Linked DNA regions of Homo sapiens: region 2 is linked to region 1. A link means that fine-mapping ties the variant in region 1 to the expression of a gene that starts in the linked region. Tissue or cell type: whole blood. Region 1 holds a variant in brackets; the other region holds the start of a gene. All regions are shown on one strand. Distances are from middle to middle.

Region 1 (8,102 bases):
TTTGAGGTTAGGAGTTCGAGACCAGCCTGGCCAACGTGGTGAAACCTTGTCTCTACTAAAAATACAAAAATTAGCCAGATGCAGTGGCGGGTGCTTGTAATCCCATTTACTCGGGAGGCTGAGGCACAAGAATCCCTTGAACCTGGGAGGCGGAGGTTGCAGTGAGCCAAGATTGCACCACTGCACTCCAGCCTAGGTGACAGAGTGAGACTCCATCTCAGAAAAATAAATAAATAAATAAATAAAAATATAGGATGCCCAATTAAATCTGAATGTCAGATAAATGACAATTTGTTTTTAGCCTAAGTATGTCCTAAGTATTGCAACTCAACTCCATTTATATTGTCCTAGAAAGGCTTTTATTATGTCCAAGTTTTCAAATTTATTAAAATAAAGATGAGTAATCTTTTAAGTTCCCCTATAGATGTGATTATTTCTTCATTCTCATTTCTTATTTTGTGTATTCATTTGTACCAATTCACTAGCTAATAGCCTATCTTTTTTTTTTTCAAAGACCTATTATTCTGATTTCAAATTTATCAGTTTCTGCTTCAGTTGTTCCTGAGTTCTTTCGCTTTCTTTATTTTTCCTTTACTGACTTTTTTATTCTTTTTTTTTTTTTTTTTTTTGTGATGAAGTCTCGCTCTGTCGCCCAGGTTGTAGTGAAGTGGCATGATCTCGGCTCGCCGAAACCTCTGCCTGCTGGGTTCAGGTGATTCTCCTGCCTCAGCCTCTTGAATAAATGGGATTACAGGCGCCCGCCACCATGCCTGGCTAATGTTTGTATTTTTAGTAGAGATGGGATTTCACCATGTTGGTCAGGCTGATCTCAAACTCCTGACGTCAAATGATTGGCCTGCCTCAGCCTCCCAAAGTGTTGGGATTACAAGTGTGAGCCACCATGCCCAGCCTACTTTACTAACTTCTTAAATAATATACTTTATTTATTTTTGTTGGTTTGTTTGTTCGTTTGTTTTTCAGACCGAGTCTCGTTCTGTCACCCAGGCTGGAGTGCAGTGGCACGATCTCAGCTCATTGCAACCTCCACCTCCCGGGTTCAAGCGATTCTCCTGCCTCAACCTCCCGAGTACCTGGGACTACAGGCACACGCCACCATGCCTGGTAATTTTTTTTTTTTAGTAGAGATGGGGTTTCACCATGCTGGCCAGGCTGGTCTTGAACTCCTGACCTCGTGATCCGCCTGCCTTGGCCTCCCAAAGTGCTGGGGTTACAGGCATGAGCCACAGCGCCTGGCCTGTTTGTTTTTGAGACAGAGTCTCGCTCTGTCACCCAGGCTGCAGTGCAGTGGCACGATCTCAGCTCACTGCAACCTCTGCCTCCCAGGTTCAAGCAATTATCCTCCCTCAGCCTCCCAATCAGCTGCGATCACAGGTGCCCGCCACCACACCTGGCTAATTTTTTTGTATTTTTAGTAGAGACGGGGTTTCACCATGTTAGCCAGGCTGGTCTTGAACTTCTGACCTCAAGTAATCCACCTGCCTTGGCCTCCCAAAGTGCTGGGATTGCAGGCATGAGCCACCGCACCTGGCCTATTTATTTTGATTCTTATTTTTTATGTAATATTTAAGCAAATGAATTTTCCTCCGAGCCCTGCATTAGCTGTATCCTGAAGGGTCAGATCTGTATTGATTACAGTGTTAGTTGAAGATGTCGCCCTTTTGGTATTGATTTCCTCTGTGTAACAAGATGTTTCAAAAGCCAGCTGTAAGAGTCTCTGGCTGGGCTGGGAATGCACACTGGCTGGCACTGCTGGTGGTGCAGAATGGATGTAGGGGCAGGGCCTGGGCAAGTCTCCCAGGGTGGGATGAGCAGGGAGGGAGAGGAATGGGCTTCCTCCAGGGCCTCAGGAACCAAGGAAGTCTCTGCACTACCTCCAGGCAGGGTCAGATGTGCATTTTCCAAAGCTTATTGCATTAGGAGTGGGGAGTAGACTGTGGTGGTGCCAGCAGCAAAAAGATGGAAAAGAGAGAAGGAGGTGGAGTCAGGGCTGAACCACACAGCTGGAGGGAAGAGGGGGGTTCTACGAGTAGCGCAGGAGGGAGGCGAGGCAGGCACCGCAGAGCTTCCAGCTGCCTCAGGGCCGACTTCCATTTGGCACTTTGAGTCCAAGGTGCCTGTGCACCTTGTCCAGATGCTCTGGAGGTGGTTGCTCGGGTATGTGGGTCTGAGACTCCAAACAGCTCGGCCAAAGCCGACATGGAGATCCATCAGTTCACAAGTAGTGAATGAGCCTTCTCAGGTGGGTGGCAGTCCCAGGGTGGCCAAGGGTCCAGGGAGTGCACCCTCACTCTGCAGGTGAGTCAGAATCAGGCACCACAGAGCCAGGGTTGCACCCCTGCTGGGGGGAACAGGAGCCCCTTTTCCTCTCCCCGACACACAGGGACAAAGTTATCATGCTCTTTGGGTGCCACTGGGAGGCACTGATGGGAGAGACTGGCCAGGCCTTCCCAAGCAAGCTCCAGGCAGCCTCCCAGCACCCCGGCCCAGGCGCAGGTGTGGTCTGGGAGCACAGAGCCAGGTTCCCACCGTGGGGCACCTGAGGTTTGTGCCTAGCAGCCTTCTCCTCCTTTGGTTCCCTTTTCCTTTTTGGTCCACAGGGTTTGGGACAGGTGGCTGCTACCAACAGCTCTCAAGGTGGCCCCACAGACCTGAGCCAACCACTTCTCCTCAGCCCTCCCCTGCCCATGAAGACTGCTCAGAGGGGCCCCATTGAGAGCTGGATCTGGGACTTTGTTTAAACTGCAAGGAGAGAAGCTCTGTCACCCTGCAGGGCGTGAAGTTCAGCTGAAGCCATTGAGATCATGGCCTGGGAGCCTATCTAGCAGGAGGCTACCACACGGAGGGCCCTGACGGTGTGAGTTCGGCCTCTGGATCCCACCACACTGAAGCACTCCAGAGACTCCCTTCTCTCTAAACCCACCAGTTCTGCTCCCTGGACCCCTGACCCAGCCGTGCTGCTTTCAAAGATCTGTCTTCCACTGCCTCCCAAAGCCAGATCGCAGGAGAAGCTGGTGGTCTCGCATCTGCCTGAATTCTGACAGCGGCCCACGAGAGTCGGTGATGATGGCAGGTCTGCCCAAGTGGTGGGCCGGCTTGGCCCCCTCATCTCAAAGTGAGCCATGTTTTGCTCCCAGACCTTCCTCCTAGTCTGCCAGACCACCTCTTCTAGCCATGCAGTCAAGCCCAGATTAGGAATTAGCCCCATCCAGCCCCTCTCCCACATACAACCTCCAAATATATCCACATCCCAATCCCTAGAACCCAAGATTAGACCTTATATGGCAAAAGTGACTTTGAAGATGTGATTCAATTTTTTGAGATGGGGAGATTATCCTGGACCATCCAGGTGGACCCACTATGCCCCCAAAATTCACGTGTTGAAAGCTAATCACCAATGTGATAGCGTTAGCAGGTGGGGCCTTTGGGATGTGGTTAGGTCATGAGGGTAGAGCCCTCATGAATGGGATTAGTGCCCTATAAAAGAGACCCCAGAAGCCAGGCATAGTGGGCTGCACCTACAGTCCCAGCTACTGAGGAGGCTGAGGCAGGAAGATCTCTTGGGTACAGGAGTGAGCTATGATCACGCCATTGTACTCCAGCCTTGGTGACAGAGTGAGACCCTGTCTCTAAAGTAATTAAATAAAAGAGACCCCAGAGAGCTAGCTAGCTTCTTCCACTATGTCAGTTAGAAGGTGCCATGTATGAGGACATGGGCCCTCACAGGACATCAAATCTGCCAGTACCTTGATCTTGGACTTCCCAGCCTCCAGAGCTGTGAGCAATAAATTTCTGGAAAATGCTATAAGCCACCCACTTTCCAGTATTTTTGTTATGGCAGCCCAGGCAGACTAAAACAACCTCTGTGGCACATTTGGGGTGATGGAGGAACAGCCGATGTTCC[T/C]AGGAACCAGTGAGGCGCAGGAGTCCCAGATCCCTCTAGTGAGATCCCCAGAGAGCACCACGTACCCACCCTGCAGCTGGCAAAGCTATTTATGGAAGTTAGGGGCCTGTTGGTTTAGAGCGGCCATTCTCAACCAGGGGGATGTGGCACTGTCTTGAGACAGTTTTGGTTGTCATGAGTGGGTGTGTGCGGTGGGGAGTGCTACTGCATCACACAGGCTGAGGCACGGGATGCTGCTCAACATCCTACAGTGTGGGGACAGCCCCCCACAACAAAGAATCATTTCATTCGAAACATGGATGAGGACCAAGCGCAGTGACTCACACCTGTAATCCCAGCACTTTGGGAGGCCGAAGCAGGAAGATTGCTTGAAGCCAGGAGTTTGAGACCAGCCTGGGCAACATGGTGAAACCCCATCTTTACAAAAAAAGCAAAAAATCAGCCGGATGTGGTGACACACACCTGTACTCCCAGCTACTTGGGGGCCTGAGGTGGGAGGATTGCTTGAGCCCAGGAGGTCGAGGCTGCAGTGGGCTGAGACTGCACCACTCCACACCAGCCTGGGTGATAAAGTGAGACCCTGTCTCAAAAAAAAAAAAATTAGCTGAGCACGGCAGCGTGCATGGTGGTTTGTGCCTGTAGTCCCAGCTACCTGAGAGGCTGAGTTGAGAAGATGGCTTAAGCCAGGGAGGTGAAGGCTGCAGTGAGCCAAGATCATGCCACTGCATTCCAGCCTGGGTGACAGAGCCAGACCCTGTCTCAAAAAAAATGACAGAACAGACTCTGTGGCAACAAGATACCAAATTATAAAGAGGACCCAAGGCCAAGCCAGGCAGGGGTTAATTCATGGACCCTGCACTTAAAGAATAAACTATGTTCTAACAGCAATGAGGCTTTCCTTTTCCTCCAGCAGCAACAAGCACCGGCCTGAAGCAACATTAATACACTTTGCAGCTCATCCAGCTCACGGATGCCAACTTATTGACCCCCTGTTTTTCCAGGCATAACTACAGCTCCGACTGGACAAGAGACTGATTTCAGTAACTTTCTCCTGATAAGAGACCATTGACCATGAACTGGCTCTGGCTGGTTTTCAGAAGTTGCTCACTTGCAGGCCTTCAGGCCCTGAAAAGATGTTTTGACAGATGGGGCCTAATTGTAATACATTTTATTTTATTTTATTTATTTTATTGAGATGGAGTCTCACTCTGTTGCCCAGGCTGGAGTCCAGTGGCACCATCTTGGCTCACTGCAACCTCCGCCTCCTGAGTTCAAGCAATTCTTCTGCCTTGGCCTCCTGAGTAGCTGGGATTACAGGCGCCCGCCACTGTGCCCGGCTAATTTTTATATTTTTAGTAGAGTTGGGGTTTCACCATGTTGGCCAGGCTGCTCTTGAACTCCTGACCTCATGTGATCCACCCGCCTCGGCTCCACAAAGTGCTAGGATTATAGGCGTGAGCTACCGTGCCTGACCTTGTAATACATTTTAATGTTAAGTCTCCACCGTCTTCATCCTACAGCAAACATGAGTCCTATGTTACATGCATGTTCGTTCAATACACATGTGTCAAGACTGCCTTCATGAATATTCATAGCTCTCCCTGTAACATGTTGAATATGTATGTTTAGCCAACCCCTTCAGCATACAGCTCCTGCCCCAACCTCTCCTCCTTAGAAGTGCCTATCTCCGGATCACGAGATCAGGAGATCGAGACCATCCTGCCTAACACAGTGAAACCCCGTCTCTACTAAAAATACAAAAAAAATTAGCCGGGCGTGGTGGCGGGCGCCTGCAGTCCCAGCTACTCGGGAGGCTGAGGCAGGAGAATGGCGTGAACCTGGGAGGTGGAGCTTGCAGTGAGCCGAGATCGTGCCACTGCACTCCAGCCTGGGCAAGAGAGCGAGACTCCATCTCGAAAAAAAAAAGAAGTGCCTGTCTCTGGTCTCTGCCAGAGGCTATGCTTTTGAAAGTGGCGGATGGCCACCCTGCAGTCTGTAACCCTTTATGAAAAATAAAGTTGCCGCTGTGGCTCACACCTGTAATCCCAGCACTTTGGGAGGACAAGGCAGGCGGATCACTTGAAGTCAGGATTTCAAGATGAACCTGGCTACATGGTGAAACCCCATCTCCACAAAAAATACAAAATGAGCCGAGTGTGGTGGCACGCACCTGTAATCCCAGCTACTCAGGAGGCTGAGGCAGGAGAATCGCTTGAAGCTGGGAGGCAGAAGTTGCAGTGAGCTGAGATTTTGCCACTGCACTCCAGCTTGGGCAACAGAGTGAGACTTTGTTTCACAGAAAAAAAAAAAAAAAGAAAGTAAGTTGGGGGATGGGGGAGAGCTTCAGGAAGAATAGCTAATGGATGCTGAGCTTAATACCTAGGTGATGGGTTGATCTCTGCAACAAACCACCAAGGCACATGTTTATCTATGTAACAAACTTGCACATCCTACGTATGGGCCCCTGAACTCAAAACACAAGTTGAAGGAAAAAAAAAAAAGAAAGTCTTGTCGGGCATAGTGGCTCACACCTTAATCCCAGCACTTTGGAAGGCCGAGGAGGGAGGATGGCTTGAGACCAGGAGTTCAAGACCAGCCTGGGCAACATAGCGAGACCCTGTCTCTACAAAAAAAATTTTAAAAATTGGCCAGGTGTGGTGTTGCACACCCGTAGTCCCAGCTACTTGGGAGGCTGAGGCAGGAGGATGGCTTGAGCCCAGGAGGTTGAGGGTGCAGTGAGCCGTGATTGCACCACTGCACTCCAGCCTGAATGACAGAGCAAGACCCCATCTCAAAGAAAAAAGAAAGAAAGAAAAAATGAAAGGAAAGAAGAAAGAAAAAAGTCTCTTTTCCAAATTTGTGAATTGTGTGATTTTTCAGTTAACCAGCTCTCAGGTCTGGGGCCAGTCACGCTGCTGAGTCCTGGCCACCAGAGTGGTGAGGTGTTGGGAGGCAGAGGTGGTGCTTGTCTCTGTCCAGGGGTGGCCTGGCTGAGGTTCGGCTGGTCCACGAGCATCAGTTTCCCCACCTCCATGGTGGTGGAATGTGGAGAGCCATAGGAGCCTGGTGCATGCACCCCTCTGTGCACTGTCCGAGGGTCCCCTCCCCACTTAGAACCATGGAATCAGGCCACAGTCCGCCTCTTTAATCTTGGACTGGAGGATATACAGATCGAGAGGGTGGGAGAGTGGCCCCAGGCAAGAGGCCTGCGGAGGGATAGAGGGGCCGGTTCAGGACCACCAGGGGCTCTGGGAAAGGGGGTTAGGGATGAGGCTCAGCCTCTCATCTGCCCAGCTGGTCCCCGCCACCTCTTCCACTCTCAGCTGGACTCCCCTGCCAGGGGTCCAGATCCTGCCAGAGTAGTTGGTCCCCCAGCCATGTCCGGCCTGGACACAGGACTCATGGTGGGGCCAGACTTCAGCTCTGGGCAGAGCAGTGTCTTAGTAGCCTGCGGCCTCCCCACTCTTCCTCAGGTCCGAGACGGCGTACACACAGGCCCCCTCCTGGGACACAGCCTGGACCACGTTCAGGAAGAAGGGCCTCTGGGTCTGGTTCTGGCCACGGTCTTGGAGTCCCCTCTGCACCTCCTGGAGAGGAGAGAAAGCAGGTTCACAGGGGAGGGCAGCTCAGCCCATCTCCAGGAGGGAGAGGCCTCTGCAAGAAATGAGAAAAATGATCAAAAGGCAAGACGGAGAGGAAGAGGGCCTGAAGACACAGGAAGAGGGGAGGACCAGATGGGAGCATGGAAGAGATCCAAAGGCCCATAGAGGACAAGCTCAGCCTCCAGGGACTATGTACGAAGGACACCACCCAGGCCCGAAGACCTCCAAATGCAAGTTCATGTCTGTTCTGGATCCAAGGACACCAGGGCCTTGAGGTGCAAATCTGAGTTCAGGGGGCCTTCGATGGAGGATGTGGCTTCTCAAGATTTAGACACTGAGGCCAGACACAGTGGTTCACACCTGTAATGCCAGCAATTTGGGAGGCTGAGGAAGGAGGATCACTTGAGGCCAGGAGTTTGAGACCAGCCTGGGCAATGCAGCAAGATCCTGTTTCTAAAAAATAAAAAATAAGAAATAAAAAAAAGCCAGGCGTGGTGGCACATACCTACAGTCTTAGCCACTTGGGAGCCAAGGTGGCAGGATCACTTGAGGCCAGGAGTTTGAGAACAGCCAGGGCA
Region 2 (8,102 bases), 210 kb before region 1:
TGGGGTTGGGGCTCAGCCCCATGCCCAGAGTCCCCCCAGAGGGCAGGTGGGTAGGAAAGCTTCACCTGCATCACCTCCGTCAGCACCAAGTCTTCCAGGGAGATCTGCTCCATTGCCAGGAAGGGCCTGGCCACCAGCACCCCCCAATCCAGGTGCTGCAGGGCTGGCATCAGCCTCCCCAACAGCCGCTCCAGCTGTGCAGCATCTGCAGGCTGTCCGGAGAAGTGGGGCAGGAGAGACTGGGCTGGGAGGAGAGGAGCAACTTAACCCAGACTCTTGGAAGCCTCTTGGGCCTCCTCTCCATCCCTTCCCGGCTGCCACTCATTAGTGATGTCCTCTGGGGCTCTGTGTTCAGAAGGTTTCTAAGGATTCATTCAGGCTTAGGGGAAGGAGTACTGTGATAGATTAGTTATGTCTGCTGAGGACAGTGGAAGTGAAGCTAATATGTAATATGTACCAACTGGTGCCTTCCATCTCTGGGGGTCCAGGCCCCTGCCCCAGCCTGCATGACAGGGCCTAGGAAGCTCACCTTGCACAGGTAGACATTGGTGGCAGGCAGCTGGATGGTGACATGCTTCCACGCCAAGTACTCATCCACGCAGGTGCGGGCTTGCAGCTCAGGTGGGTACCAGTGTCCCCGTATCTGGTACTTTCGACTCAGGTATAAAACGATGACCATGCTGTGGGCAGGGGGTGTCAGAGATCTTTTCTCCAGCCTGTCAGGGCCAGGTGGCTTCATTGCTCATACTCAGGGTGATTTGACCAGGTTTTCTCCCCACCTTCACCTTCAGGGGAGGACCTCCCCTATACTGCAACTCCCTCCAGGCAGTATCTCCCCACGACCAAACCACTCTGTTTCTCCATTTCCAACTCTGATCCTCCCTGGGCCCATGTTTCCACCTCCCCTCCCAGTTACCATACCATCCTGCCCTCTGTGCCCAGGCCCCACTCCCTGGCATCAGGGTCCCCACTCAGAGTGCCTGCCGTGTGGGCCCTGCCCAAAAGGTCTCCAAGTTCCCTTCCTAGTGCCCCAGAACACTAGGTGCCCATTTTCTATCCTCAGGTAAGCCCTGGGAGGTGGATACATTATTCCTCCCACTCCGTTTTACAGAGGAGAAACCTGGCACACAAAGTTCTGTGATTTCCCCAAGGGCATGGATTGAGGAAGTGGTGAGCTGGGATTGAATGTGGAGTCTCCCCTGGGTCTGCCCAGCTCCTAGGACTCTGAAAGGATGAGCTGGGGACATTTGGGGAGGAGCCAGCCTCAAGCCTGGGCCTTGCCCGCTGGCTTCAGGTTGTCCAGGTTTATCCGGGTGACCTACGTCCTTTCCCCACCTGGGCAGCTCCAGCTGGCTCAGACTCTAGCCAGGTTCCAGCCTCCAGCTTTAGCCCAAAGGTGCCCCTGGGTCCAGCCTCTGCATCGGAGCTACACAGGCTGAAATGAGGAAGGGGCCTCAGTGATTTGGAAAGATCTCCAAGCCAAGGAAAGATCTCCCCTCTCGCCTCTGCCTCCCCCTACAACTCTGAGCCCCAGAACCCAGGCAGATCCTGGCTCTGACCCTGGGTGGGCACCAGGTCACCATTACCTCTTTGCTAGTAGGAAGTCGCCATCTCTGAGGGCAGGCACCTTCCCCAGGGGGTTCACCTTCAGGAACTCAGGCTTCAGGTGCTCCCTTGGTGGGCAGAAAGGAGAGAAGGCTCAGTGTAGGGCCTGGTCCTTGGCACCCACTCCATGGGGCCCAGCCCAGCCACCTGGCTCACCCCAAGCCAACTCCACCATCCACAGCTCAAAAGGGATGTCATTCTGTCTTGCAAAAGTGGATAGTGTGTCAGGTCCAGGAAGAGCTCAAGCCCCATTGCTGCTCCTCTCACCTGCCCTCCCCAGAATTCTGGACCTCCAGGAGTTGCTCAGCCCTTCTCCACTAGTTCTGAGCTGTTTCCTCTCCATAGTCTGCTGTAGTGGGCCAGAGCACAGGGCAGATTTGTCTTCAGGGACTTTCTCTGGGCATTCCTGGGCAGAGAACTTCATCTTCTCTGTTAACTCTTGCTGATAATTCTCTGTAGCTAGGCACCTTGTAAAACCCATGTCCCAGAATGCCAAACCTGGAAATGCAATGTCAGCGCCGAAACTGCATTGAAACTGAATGAATGAGGTCCCCACCCTCTTATCTAAATATCCTATCAGTCTGTTGAATGTCAAAGTATGTAGGGGTGGTGTGGGGGAGCCTATAGGGAGTCTCCATTTCTGTAGCTTTCCACATGTTCCATGCAGAATTTTCCTCTAATGACCCTTGGACACCGTGGTGGTCACTGTTTCCCTGCATAAACCTTTGATGATCCTTATCTTTAGCGTACCAGTGAAACACCAAATTCAGATTTTCAGTCTGTGCAGTCTATGTAGTTAATAAAATCAATTTCTAATGGAATATGCCTGTGCCTGGTGTGTTTGTACCTAACCACTGCTAAGGACTTTCATTGATAGCTAGACCTTGGAGTTCCTTCCCCTGGACCCCTGACCCAAGTATTTTGCACTCATTCCTCTGCCAGTGTGTTTCATGGTGTCCTGCTTCCCAGAGTGCCTCAGGGAATGCTTGCATTGGATATGAATGAATCGTTGCGGTCACCATGGATGGGATTCAGGCCTAACTCTCACCAAGACCATAAGGCCACAGTCTTTGATATAGATTCCCCATGTTAAATCTGCCATCCTCAGTGTAGTGAGAGTGATATTGAGAGAGAAAAGTTAGGTAATTAAGGTGGGTCCTTGGTAAAACTCCTTTAAACAGAGGAACAGCCTGAAAAATCAGGCTTCAGGCACAGATAAGGAAACTTGCACAAACCTCTGGCTCACTCAGATAAAGGAACAATGCCCAACACAGAAACACCTTTGATCTTTGTGCCTAAGGCATGCCCACAGCTACTTTGATAAGGGAACAAGACCCAGCATAGAAATGCCTTTGTCCTTTGTATAACCAGTGGGCTTCCAGGAAATAGTCTCTTCTCCTTTTGTGGACATGTACACGGTGGGCTACAGTGGGTTCCAGTGGGCACTTTCCTTTCTTGGACGTGCTTTAGAATGTGAGCCTCTGATTGGTCCTGGGCCAGGCTATCACTTCAGCTCCTGATTGGTCCCTCAAGGTCCAGGGGCCAAGCTGAGTAGTGCTTTCTCCAAGACCAGTCAGTACATTCCTTCCTTTCCCAGTCCATAAAACCCCCTGACCCAGCCTCATAATGGGCAACCTGCTTGGGCCCCCCGCCAGCTGCAATGAGCTTTCTTCATTTGCTTATTAAACTTTTGCTTCAACCTTACCCTTTGTGTCCACACTCCCTAATTTTCTTGGTCGTGAGACAAAGAATTCTGGGTGATACCCCACAATGAGAGACTGGTACATTGTGGTGCACGGGCAAGACTGCAACAATATGTTTTCTGCTTGCTTGTTTGGACTGGCCTCTTCCTAACTCTCCAGAGTGCTCTCTCCCCACTGTGGCCCTGAGCTTTGCCTCACGGTAACACTGTGCTGCATGACACTCCAGCATGATCTGCATGTTTCTCACCTCCGGACCTTCCCCACACAACTTTCTTGCTGCTTGGACCACCCTTCCCACCTATTTTCAACTGTTTCTCTCCAGCGCATCTTTCATGATAAGGCTTGAGTGGAAGCTGTATCCGAGGCTGAAGGTTATCCATGCAGCTTTGAAACCATCTGTTTATGCTTCTGTTTACCCCCCAAATACTGTTTACCCCAATACTCAAAGTCAAGGTTGGTGACTCAACAATTTTCAGAACTTCTAGCTTATCAGTATAGCTTTATTGTACTGAACTGAGTTTTTCACCATGCTGTTACTGTCTTTGAGGTTAAAAAGCCCCCAACATTCACTCCTATTTGAATCATCTGTGCAAGACTCAAGCAGCTATGAATTCAACCACAGTGTAAAGTTCTTCCCTACAATGCTTTATTGTTATTCTAGCTCCCAAGAGAGTACCATCTTTCAGCCCAAGACCCTTGACAGAACCCCTTCAACTCTGTCGCCTTTTTTCATCTCTGGAATTCTGACACCACCCATGACCCCTCTTCTTGTTCATTTACTAGGTTTTGTTCCTTTTTTTCCTTTTGTTTCAATATCCTATTGTATCTGTTCCTTTTGGGCTTCACATCCTTTTTGGAAAGAGAGGCACAGGTAATATAATGAATGAGGATGCTCCTCCTCCCTGGTTCCCTCTAAGTCAAGTTTCTCCAACGCGCTGGTCTGCTTGGCTTTGAATGCGGCTCAACACAAATTCATAAACTTTCTTACAACATTTTGAGATTTTTTGGTGATTTTTATTTTTATTATTTATTTATTTATTAACTTATCAGCTATCCTTAGTGTTAGTGTATTTTATGTGTGGCCCAAAACAATTCTTCCAACGTGGCCCAGGGAAACCAAAAGATTGGACACCCCGCTCTAAGTGTTCCCCAAGTTTCCACTGTTTTCAGAGCACATGTCCCAGGTAATAACACACAGCCCATCATTTAGTGACTGCTCAGGGTGCAAGCTGTGGAGAAGAGAGTCCGACTACGAGCTGGTGCTCTAAGCCTCCAGCACGCTAGGACTGACGACGGGGATCCGGAAACAACAAGCTCCACTCCCGCAACACACACACACACACACACACACACACACACACACACACACACACGCACACGCACACGCGCACGCGCGCACACACGCGCACACACGCGCGCACGCGCGCGCGCGCCGCCCAAGGGTAGCCGTCTGCAGGGCCCCAGCTAAGCAGCCCGCGGAGAGCGAGCGGCGCGTGCGCCCCCGCTGATTGGCTGGCACAACCGGCACCGGAGCCAATGGGAGCACGCCTTGTTGTCAGGCGCGCAGCCGGACGGCGCGGTGGTCGGGACAGACTGGCCGTTGCTGTGGAGACGCCTGGTGAGTTCCTGGAAGGCTGGTTTGAAGGCGGTGCCGGGGTGGGGGTGAGGCTCAGCAGAGCCCGGGGCACAGGCCGGAGGGGCTGCAGGCGCGAGGCTGGGTTACGTGAGGAAGCTGGGGGTTTCGCGGGCAGCTTTAGAGCCCCAGTCAGGGAAACCGAGGCCGGGCTTCCTGGCTGCCTCGCGAGCCTCTTCATGGCTCTCGCCGCCGCCCTGAGGTGCCTAGAATGGGTTCCGGCCTCCGGGGAGGTTCCCAGTAACCGCAGGAGCCACCATTGATTTGGCGTCTGCTGGGTGCAAAGCCCAGCGCGCTAACCCTTTACTCGCGACCTTTCGCTTCACCTTCACAGCAGCCCTGCGAGGTGAGTGTTGTTATTGGTGCCATTTACAGGGGTGGAAACTGAGGCCGCGGGTAGGTGAAATGATTTGCTCCAAGTCACCCAGTGGGTGAGCGCGACTCCAGACTGAAAATTTTGACCGTTCTGCTTCACTGCCTCCCCGCAAGAGGCGGGCCCTGGCCAGATGGAACTCACCTGGCATTCCCAAGGTATCTGCACAAGTGGCTTTGGGAGTCACTTAACTCTTCAGGACCTGGGTTATTACAGGTTATAAGTGTGGGACCGTCGGATTCCATGTGGCTAAGATTCTTTCTATGTGATTATTGTGGTTAGAAATAGAATATGCTTAGAACAGTCTCGTTCAGCGGTCGGCAAACTTTTGTTGTAAATATATCAGTGTTTACATTGTTATATTGTAAGTATAATGAGTATAATAGTATTCATAATAGTAGTTTAGGCTTGGGGGGTCCATACTCTGTCTACTTAACTGTAGCGATGTAGTGTGGATACAGCCAAAGACAATACATAACAGACTAGCTGCGTCGCAATAAAATTTTAATTATAGGGACCGAAGTTTTAATTTTATATATTGTTAATATAATTTTCACGTGTCATGATTTTTTTTCCCAAATATGAAAAAATGTAAAAACCATTCTTTGCTCGTGGGCTGTACAAAAAGGGTGGGCTGGTTAGCTTGCAGAACCCTCATCTAGTACAAAGCCTCATACATGAGGGGAAACAGACTGAGAGACTGACATCTATGTCAAGTCAGTCACACAGCCAGGGCACTGCCACCACTGAGCTTAAGACATAGGCTTCCCACCTTCCAGGCCAGGAAACATCCCCAGTTATCACTCTGGATCAGGGTGCTGAGGTCTGAAGGTGTGCTACTCTTTATCGTGTTCTGAGGCCATGGAAACTATATTCTAAGGGGTTTGGAAACTTATTAGCTTAGACTAATAAGCCTGGTGAATGTGCTGCTATCTGAGGAAATGCAGCTGCTGGGCTGGGAGTCAGAAATGAATAGATATTTTTCTTTTTCATGATTATTCAATAGCTTTTGTGTGTGTGTGTGTGACGGAGCCTTGGTCTGTCGCCCAGGCTGGAGTGCAGTGGCATGATCTCGGCTCACTGCAATCTCCGCCTCCCGGGTTCAAGCAGTTCTCCTGTCTCGGCCTCCCGAGTAGCTGGGACTACAGACACCCGCCACCATGCTTGGCTAATTTTTGTATTTTTAGTAGAGACGGGGTTTCACCGTATTGGTCAGGCTGCTCTCAAACTCCTGACCTCAGGTGATCCACCCGCCTCGGCCTCTGAAAGTGTTGGGATTACAGGCGTCAGACACCGCGCCCGGCCTCAATAGCTTTTTTTTTTTTAAAAGCTCCTTTTAGTGAGTTTCTTGGATTTATGGTGAACAATACATAAATGGTTACCATCCTCACATTGCTTACAGATGATAAATATATAATCAAAATGGTTATTTCTTTTTAAGCTTTTTTTTTTTTTTTTTTGAGATGGAGTCTCGCCTGTGGCCCAGGCTGGAGTGCAGTGGTGCGATCTCGCCTCACTGCAAGCTCCGCCGCCTGGGTTCACGCCATTCTCCTGCCTCAGCCTCCCTAGTAGCTGGGACTACAGGCGCCTCTCACCATACCCTGCTAGTTTTTTGTATTTTTTAGTAGAGACGGAGTTTCACCGTGTTAGCCAGGATGGTCTTGATCTCCTGACCTCATGATCCGCCCGCCTCGGCCTCCAAAAGTGCTGGGATTATAGGCGTGAGCCACCATGCCCGGCCTCTTTTTAAGCTTTTTAAACTAATTTTAGATTTAGAGAAAAATTGCAACAATACAAAACGCTCTGTTATGTCCTTCACCCTGCTTTCCCTAATGTTAACATCTTACATAATCATACAATTATCAAGAACAGAAATCTAGTGTTGGTACAGTATTATTAACTACATTACAGATGTGATATGAATGTTACCATTTTTTAAATTAAGGTTGTGTTTTCATTCCAGGACCCTATCCAAGATCCCATGTTGCATTTAGTTATTTCTCCTTGGTCCATAACACTTCCTTAGTCTTTTCTTGTTTTCCTTGGCTTTGATGCTTTTAAAGAGTAGTGATCAGTTATTTTGTCTAACGTCTCTCAATTTAAAGGTTTGTCCAGTGTTTTCTAATGATTGGGGTGAGATTATGCATTGTTGGCCAGAACACAAAGACACATTATCTTTGTGTCTTTCTCAGTGCATCACATGGAGTCCAAGATATTGGAATGTCTTATTACTGGTGATATTTACCTTGATCTATTGGTTTACTTGGTGTCTACCAGGTTTCTACACCATAAAATTACTATCCCTTTCTAATTAATAAGTCTCTTGGGAGAGATACATTGAGAGGACACAAATTCTCGTTCTCCACAAATTTGCTCCCTGACTTTAGCATCCATCTGCAGATCTTTGTGGTGTTTGCCTAAAGGTAATTATTTCTCTCTTTCCTTCTACATTATTAAGTCAAGTTCTACTGAAAGGAGAACTACCCTCTCTCTCTTTTATTTATTTATTTGATTATTTATGTGTCAGTGTAGGCCATGGATATGTATTATATTCTATGAGTTAAAATTCATTATCATCATTATTTTGTTGCTTACTGTTCCAGCATTGGCTATTTAGTTAGGATCTCCTTCAGGTTAGCTTCTGTGGCCTATCAACTGGCCCTCATTTTTTTTTTTTTCCTTCAAGCACTTACTTTATGGCACACCACAAGGTGTTCCAGGCTCATCTTGTGTTTTCTCTGACCCAACTCTGGAATCAGTTCTTTTTGTCTTTAGCCTATCCAGTCAA

The links. PIP is the estimated chance that this variant, and not a neighbour inherited with it, causes the effect.
Region 2: CABIN1 starts here. The variant in region 1 is fine-mapped to the expression of CABIN1 in whole blood (TOPMed, PIP above 0.99).

Annotation. Positions count from the first base shown.
Region 1 is chr22:24,212,608-24,220,709 of GRCh38, forward strand. It overlaps GGT5 (gamma-glutamyltransferase 5), which reads right to left. Exons shown (of 12, transcript NM_004121.5): 12 at 7,053-7,509. The coding sequence ends at 7,363. LOC124905090 (a long non-coding RNA gene) reads left to right here and starts at 981. Exons shown (of 2, transcript XR_007068023.1): 1 at 981-1,122; 2 at 2,619-3,823. RefSeq lists an enhancer at 1,022-1,548. The variant T/C (reference allele first, on the strand shown) is at 3,923.
Region 2 is chr22:24,006,442-24,014,543 of GRCh38, forward strand. CABIN1 (calcineurin binding protein 1) reads left to right here and starts at 4,863. Exons shown (of 37, transcript NM_012295.4): 1 at 4,863-4,926. It overlaps LOC105372959 (a long non-coding RNA gene), which reads left to right. Exons shown (of 2, transcript XR_001755457.1): 2 at 1-2,426.